Homo sapiens: one gene and its partner. The protein of the gene in region 1 interacts with the protein of each later gene in a pairwise test. Each region holds a gene or a part of one and is shown on either strand. Other genes may lie near its edges.

Region 1 (4,290 bases):
GCTCGGACAAGCTGTTTCCTTCTTCTGACCAACCCAGGTGTGACCTGGGGATGCAGAGCTTTCTGTTTTGGGTGTTGGGAGAAGCAGCAGGAAGGAGTCGCCAGATGATCAAGCTCCCCCTTTGCTGTCATCTGTGAATGAGCTTCGCCAGGTGGTGGGCACCTGGGAGCCATGCAGAGGCTGTGGTGCTGAGTTAGACTCCAGGTACTTTGTGGTCAAAGGAAATCGCCTAGCTCCAGGCTGTGTTAGGACAGTATTAGCATGAAGGCTGTGCGACCATCATGCCTGCTGATCCTTGAGGCAGGCCTGGTCCAGAAAACTCTGGGTCAGTGACTGCGCAGGGCCAGCCGCTACCAGGACGGCCCTGAAACAGGACACATCTGTTTTTTGTCCCTCACCCTGGGCAGGCCGCGTCACAATCACAGTCCTCCTCCTCCCCACCCTGACGTCTGAGCGCAGGGCTTGAATTGTTAGTCCCAACTCTGGCCAAAGATACTTTTTTCCAGAGACAGAGGCCAGGAGGCAGTGAGGGGAGCCCCGCGGGGAGGCGGCGGCGACTGCCACAGCCCTTCCAGCCTGTCTTGCTGGCCGCCCTGGTTCATATTTGAGTTTAATTGTACTGACCCTGGACCCAGATAAGCAGCAACTTTGTGTCTTTGGGGTCACAGAACATTTTGGGGCAGTTTAATGTGGTACCAAACTGAAAATAGGAGCTATTTATAGATGGAGCAGCACTTAGTGCTTCATAGAAAGCAATGCCTATTTTTAAAGTTACAAACGCAGATATCTACATAGATATGCTTTGCTGAGAAGTTAGGTCTGTGGTAGACCAGAAACCACAAATTGACTTTTTTTCTTAGAAAATATTTCTATTTGCGGTAAATATAGTAATATGTAAATAATGTACATCTGTTGATTTCTGGAGTGTCTGTTATTCAATGATGTATATACTCCCACAGCTCGCATGAAGGAACAGCCTCTATTGATACTTGGTTGTAAAGTGAAGTAAGATTGGAGGGTGGATGGCTGTCAGAGCTCTTGCAGATACTGTGTTCACTAAATAAAAATCACATGTATTGTTAAAACAAGCCTAAGACTTGGTTCTTTAAAACAGATATTGTTGGGTCCAGCAAACACCCCTCCAATTTTCCTTTGCCCGTCCGAGGTGGGATGGCCTGGCCGAAGGTGCCGACTTCGGCAGGAGCACTTACTTGAAGGTTTTAAGAAAGTGAATTCAGATGATGACAGGAAGGAGTCTGGAAGCAAATGGGGAAAACAACAGTAAAAAGACGCCAAGTGTGTGATTTGCTGCCATTTATATACTATAGAAATTTTACATGCTGTATATTTACAGTGGGGCAAGTGCTTTTTTAATCTTTAGAAAAACAAAGATCAAACTTTAAACATCTCTGAACAACACAAACTGTATAAACCATACAGATTATTCAGATACAAACTGTATTAAATACAGTTTTCCCCACTCCATCTCCTGATGCAGGACCAGTGAATTATAAGTGTATCACAGTTTGATAGCATATCCATATTAAAAATAAAATCACAGTATGATTGTGTCTGTAACTAGAAACTCGAAGGGACCAAGCAGACAACGGAGACTCCAGTATCAGTGAAGACAAGAGACGCTGTATCAAAAAGTGTTGTGTAATAGAAACATACTGTCGGCTTTACAAATCATGTCTGGGTTATACATTCATAATGTAAATACTCATCATAACTGGGAAATTGATTGATTGGAACAGTTCCACAAAGTTCAAAAACAGAACTTGTCTATAAAATACATCTTCAAATCTTGAATACAACTAAAATAAGCAAATTAGTTTCTAGTATCAGACATTACAGAAAACAGACTGCTCTCCAAAGTCTAGGTGAGAGCTTGTGAGTTTTTAAATAAGTCTTTAAATTAAATATACACACTGTCAGTTTGTACTTTTGACAATTCCATGGTCTCCCGGTTGGTCTTGCACCAGATGTCTAACTTGGAGGAACATTACATGAAATACAAGTAATCGACCTGAGTCTGTAATTAAGCAGCATTTGAGATGTTCTATTCCAGGGCATTATTTCAATGGGATTTATATACACGGTATTTTACAATGGTCAGCAGTGGTAGAAAGTGTTCGTCCATTCGGAATAAGGGTAATTAAGAAAAGGTAAAAACTAAAAAAAAAGTTCTCCATGGTAAAATCTGTACAGTATTTACTAAAGAAGCACCACGCAGATTGGAACAGAGTTATTGTCTATCTTTATAATTTAAGCTGGGCTGGGGATGGCTTCTGTTGAACGCGTTGAATCTGAAAGACAAGAGGCGCAGGGTTAGTGAGTTGGAGGCAGGCGGCGGCGTGTAGGGCTTATTCCCGGACGCCCTGCCAGCTGCTCCCGAAGGCTGGGGAAGCTCTTCCTTGAGGAGATCACTCTGCCTTCTCTGCCTTCCTGAGTGGAAATGAGGGAACTGGCGGTGCGGGCAGCTCAGCCAGGGAGGCGCCATCTGCTGGGCCCGGCCACCACCCGCCCCAGATGCCTCCTCCACCTCCATCCTCACAGCCCCTCACTCAGGAAGTTTAGCTCCTTAATTAGGGTTGGGCCTCTCCCTTGAGGACACATTGATAAAGCCTGTTAATTAACGGCCAATTAATCCACAGACTCTTCACTTGGCAATTCATTTTAAATTCCTCTTGCTGACTACATGTGACAGACACATTTGGACAAAGTTTCCTTTCAAGGGAAAAATGGTTCACTGTCCCCTCTAGCTCCACAAGGGTCAGGTATAAAACCAGTGACTCTCCCAGGACCGCTGTGTGAAGTGATCCAACAAAGCCCCACAGCTCCGAGGTCCTGATCTGCCGCCCGGCCCTGGGCCACCTTCCTATGGTTTTGTACGGTGGCTGCTGGGGGGGTGCTGGCTCCAGCTCAGTGCCACCTCGGGGCGCAGACAGCAGCACAGGGGACGGGACGGACGAGGGAGCAAGGCTCCGCTCTCCTGAGTGAGGTGCCTGTGCTGGGGACCGGGCCTCTCCCTTCCCAGATGTTTATCAAAGGCCCGTGGGCTCTGCCGCTGTGAGCCGGGTTGGCTTTTCCCAAGTGAGGCACAAGGGAACAGGGCGACTCTGCCTGCGTGAAGGATGCGGGTCTTCCCCAGCCAGTAATGCAAACGTGATGAGGTGGAGGGTCTAGGTCTGTCCCCAAGCGCGTGGCCTGGGTCTGGGCTGGCTGGGAACCTGCCGGGGCCTCTCCATGGCTCTGCCAACTCCTATGAGCCCAGCCCCCAGGCAGAGCCGCAGAATTAAAACTCCTCTGCCTGCGTCCCCTCAGCGCCACCACAAACAATGAGGAAACAGACAGGAAAACAGCTTACCATAACTAGTGAATTTTTTGTTTTGAGGCTGAGTTTTCAATCACCTAGAAAGCAAAGGTCAGGAAAGAGATTTTAATGATGGTTGCAAAATCGCCAGGGCCTCTGCTGTGTGTGTGCGTTAAGTGGCTATGGTCAGAGTCACTGCGGTTCCCTGTGAGCGCCTGAGGCCACTCCCCAGTGAGGTGAGCAGGGATGTCCCAGCGCTCAGCGGCTGCTCCCAGGGTTTTACTGATGTCAAAGGGTTTACGTGATGACTGAGGGCTCCATCCAACCCACACGCAGCCTGATGTTAGAACAGATATCAGGCCCAAGAACTGAACTGGGCGGAACAGAGCCAGAGGAGGAGTTTGAAAGAGAAAGACAAGGGGCCGAAGTCCAGGGTAGAGGGGGACCCGCAGGACCACAGGACGCTGGGTGAGGCGGGGCCGGGCAGCGGCCTTCTCAGAAGGACAAGAAAGGCTCCTCAGTCTGCTCGCAGCAGAAGCGCCAGCTGCAAACCCTGTCATCGGTGCAGTGGGACGGGGACGGAAACACAGGGCCACCACACAGACAACGCCTGACCACAGCACCCGAGACACGAGGCAAACAAGATCACGTTCAACCTCCCTCCCGCTGGACCAGCTGCCTCGGGGGCCATCACTGTCTCCCAGTAGCCCCAGCTGGAAGCCCATGATCCTGGGAGCCTGCACCACACTCAGAATGAGCCCATCCACTGCATCCTCGGATCCTCGGGTACCAAGCAGCCCTCACGAATCTCCTTCCCCGATTCGCTGAAATGGGAACGCAAAACCAATTCTGAAATGTCCAGAACGTCTACAAGGCCCGCAGGCAACCCGTCCTCACCGGCAGTGCTGGTGCCTGTCCTCATCTCCGGCTGTTTCCCCAGCACTCCATGGGCAAATGTCCCCCATGGGGCTCAC
Region 2 (4,366 bases), on another chromosome or scaffold:
ATTTGAGCCCACATTTCAGGAGGTAATCCTTATATAGGGCACATCCTGCACAATCCTCTGAAGTAATCCCCACTCTGTGGGTAATCCCTCCACAAAACTTAAATGCCCTGATATACTCCCTGGCTGTCAAGGAATGTACATTTAGAAAGATAAGATCTATATATGTAACCATGGTACACATCCATAAGAAAGCTTCAAAGTGCTCAGAGGACATATTCTGGAGGAAAGGAGTCAAATAAAAGGATGATTTCCTAAATCTCTAAGTGAAATTAAATAGCATTTGGGATAAAAAGAGAAAAATAGCAGTACATAGTGAGGCATTAGAAAGAGGAGAATATCTATAGGTGGAAATATTTACAGGAACATGGTTTTCAGTAAATTTTCCTTTTTTTCCAAGTGAAAGGAGAAACATAAGAAAATGTAGGAAAAATTGAACTTACTTGAGAAATAAGGAATAGTCAAGGTTGGCTGAAATATGTTGGAAACAAGGAGAGTAAAAGCCAGAAAAGCCCTTTGAGGCTAGAGTATTTAGCATTGAATGACAGGCTAACGAGACATTTAGTAGGTGGTGAAGATAATAAACTAGATACAGGGATTCAATCAAGATTATAACTTTTTCTATGCATTAGGGAGACTTAGTCAATATGGATAAGGTAGTTGAAAATGAGCAGATCAGAAGCTGTGCAAAAAATCCACAAAGGATGGATGGCAGTCACAAGCAGATAGGAAACAAAATAGGGAGAAAGAATGAAAAAGGAGAGATCTAAGGAAGACTTTAGAAAATGATAAAACCATTAACTGATATAAGGACAGTTAAGACCAGAAACTGGTATAAGAAAGGAAAATAATTTAAGCTTTAGATGTAAAGTTTTATATGCTGTTAGGATGTTCAGAAGCAAATGTATAGTAGGAAGCTGAAAAGGAAGTGGAGAAAAGAAATGTCATATTTCTGAGAAAATAATTTGGAGTCAACTCCATGGGTTATAGTTTAAGGTCCTTTATAACATCAATGATAAACACTCCAGCGAGAAATGATGAGGACAGTTCCTTGGGAAACTTACAAGGAAGAAGCAGAACATTCAAGGAGTTAGAGAAAGGAGTGGTAAGAAAAGTGGGAGGGCAGCCAAAATATCATGGTAATAGAAGCACCAAAAAACCAATAAAAGAACGAAAGAGCAATTAAGTAACAATGTGAGATATTAAGATAATTACTTTTAATAAACAGTTGTTTTTGAGGACATACATGATCTGTGAAGGTAGCTGTTTCAGGAAAGTTGGGTAGGAGTCACATTGCATGTATTTAGAGTTTTATTACGTATAGAGATCAAATGAAGAGAAGTATGTTAGAGAAGGAAAAACAGTAAGAATATGGACAAGTTGTTTTTCTTTCAGTATTAACTGAAGGATTTTTTTGGATAGGAGACAATGCATATAATCTATAGCAGCGATCCCCAACCTTTTCGGCACCAGGGACCAGTTTTGTGGACAACAATTTTTCCACAGCAGGGGGATGATTTTGGGATGAAAATGTTCCACCTCAGATCATCAGGCATTAGATTCTCATAAGGAGCACACAACCTAGATCCTTCACACATGCAGTTCACAATAGGGTTCACGCTCCTGTGAGAATCTAATGCTACTGCTGATCTGACAGGAGGTGGAGCTCAGGCAGGCAGCAATGCTCACTTGCCCTCCACTCACCTCCTGCTGTGTGGCCTGGTTCCTAACAGACCATGGACCAGTATCGGTTTTATGTTGGGTATCTGTCTATATATTAAACAAACAGGCCACGGACCGGACCGTTTTATGTTGGGTATTTGTTTATATATTAAATCACATGCCATAGAACATCTTGAACAATATGACACATGATGCAAGTGATACAAACAAAGACAATTAGAAATGTGACAGCCTGAACAGAATGGGTTGGGGACAAGAAGGAAGGGACCACATGCCTGTCAGAGTGAGGGAGCTAGCTACCTAGATGTTTGACATAAAAATTTAGTTTATAAGACACAACAACAGAGAGAAAGATGATATTTGATATAGGAAATGAATTATTCTAAAGATTCAAATGCTGTTTAAATATGATGTTCTGAAAAATACCCATGTTCACTGAGTAACTTTGTGAATATTGCTTAACTTTTCAAATACCGCTGTTATTAGAAACAGGAAGCAATGTAAAACAAAATGTCAGTATTTTTTGTCATCAATAGAAAGGAAACTCTTCAACATGAAACTATTTTTACTCAATAAAATGAACATCAAGGTCCACTAAAAATAATATTAATTGTGAATAACTGGTCAAACTTTTAAAGGTTAGACTTTAATTGAATAATTCTCTACTTTAAAAGGAATAAGATAAACAGCATACATACAAACGATTTTAAGGAAAAAAATCACAAATCCAAATTCTATATTTATTTCAGATGTACAATACTTTGGAAAGTTTTTCACTTTAAAATGCCCTAACACAAATAAAAACTTAGCAGTGTCATAAATACAGTAAGTATTCAAATGTCTTTCTAACAGACATTTAAGTTGAGAAAAAATATGGATCACAAATACTTAGGGTCTATATTAAAAAAAAAAGAATGCGGTGACAAATCACACTATAAGCAATGCCAAAGAGAAAAGTGACCCAAAAGTGACTCAAACTTTTTGTTTACTATAATAAAATATTACTTAGTATTCATATAACTAAAAACATCTATAATCTATTAACGAAGTTCAGCTAAACAAAGAATGTAACGAAAAGTTTAAGAACATTTTGCACACTAGCCATACTAACAAGAATCTTCACTGTTGGACAATAATGACTGCTTTTTTTCAAGAAGCCATAAAAGCTACAGATTTAAATACTCATTTAAAAGAAGAGTTAACTGAATATATATCATTGACAAAGTCTGACCTTTTACCTTGCCAATTATCCTTTTATCATATTCCAAATTAATATGACAATAAAAGGAGAACCATTAAATAAGTTATATCTACCACTGTAGTATACTTTAAACATGCTTTCTAAGAAGGATACCATACGTATGTTTTCAGGTTCTTACACCTCAAAGGAATAAAACTGAATGATAATGAAACACAACAAATTCATTTTGCTGGAATGCAGCAAAAGCCAGGCTCAAAGGAAAATTCATAGTTTTAAAAGCATATTAGAAAACAAGACATGCTTAAAACAAATCATCTTGTTTCTACCACAAAAAGCTAGAAAAAGAACAGCAAATAAAATACAAAGAAAGTACGATGAAGGAAATAAAGTAACAAAAAAGAGACATCAATCAACACAGAACTTACAAACATTAAAAGATTAAAAAGAATGTTATTAGCCACTTTATGGTAATAAATTTAACAACTAGAGGAAACAAATCCCTTGAAAAATGCAGCTTTTCAAAAATGGCACAGGGAGAAAAAATCTGAAAAGTTCTTTGTCTGCTAAAAAAAAATGAAAGTCATAACTTAAAATAAAAAAATCTTCCGACAGAGAAAAATCCAGGCCTAGATGGCTTTACTGGCAAATGAACTAGACTTTTGAAGAAGAAAAAATGGCAATTTTATACAAACTCTTCCAGAGAATAAAGAAAGAGGAAGCACTTCACAACTTTTTTTTACAAGTGCAATACTAAAATCTGACAAAAACATAAGGAAACTATATACCAATATCCCTCATGAACACAAATGCAAAAATCCTAAAAAATATATTGGCAGAATGAATCCAGAAGTATAGATAAAAATGGAAAACAAATCATGATTAAGTGGGGTTCACCCCAGGAACGTAAGATTGATTTATCATTTTAAAACCAATTACTGTTAATTGTACTACATAAACAGACAAAAATAGAAATACCATAAAATTATTTCCATAAATGTAGGAAATGCATCTGATAAAACTCAACAGCTATTCATAATTAAAAAAAAAAAAACCACAACTCCCAGAAAACTAGGAGTAGGAGGGAATTTCTTCAATCCAATAAAGAGCATTTAAAAAAAAAAGAGTGAAAGTCTGTAATAATAAATTATCAAATGGTTTCTCTTGAAGGTTTGGAAGGATGTTCACTCTATTTCTACTCAGCATTGTACTACTGGAGGTACAACAAATCAAAGAAGATGAAAAAAATAATTTAAAGTCATGAACACTGGCAAAGAAAAATAAAATTACTTAGTATAGACATAATTGTACATGTAAAATTCGAAGAAATCAAACTAGTAGAAATAATTGTATTTATCTAGGGAAGAAATGCAAATTCAATTTACAAAAACCAAATTATTTCTAAATGCTAGTAATAAACTGGGAAAAATTTTAAATATCATTTCCATACCTCATCCAAACCCACCAAATACTGACAAATAAACTTAA

What was found. Proteins that work in one complex are often made in the same cells at the same time.
Region 2: the proteins of USP42 (region 1) and CPEB2 interact in a two-hybrid assay, tested with the Homo sapiens proteins (one large-scale study listed by BioGRID).

Annotation. Positions count from the first base shown.
Region 1 is NC_000007.14:6,158,574-6,162,863, reverse strand, and holds the end of USP42 (ubiquitin carboxyl-terminal hydrolase 42), read right to left. Parts: intron 3,415-4,290; coding exon 3,407-3,414; 3' UTR 3,371-3,406; intron 2,310-3,370; coding exon of another isoform or gene 2,269-2,309; 3' UTR 1,300-2,268; downstream 1-1,299. UniProt on the Homo sapiens protein: Deubiquitinating enzyme which may play an important role during spermatogenesis.
Region 2 is NC_000004.12:15,047,481-15,051,846, reverse strand, and holds part of CPEB2 (cytoplasmic polyadenylation element-binding protein 2), read right to left. Parts: intron 1-4,366. UniProt on the Homo sapiens protein: May play a role in translational regulation of stored mRNAs in transcriptionally inactive haploid spermatids. Binds to poly(U) RNA oligomers. Required for cell cycle progression, specifically for the transition from metaphase to anaphase.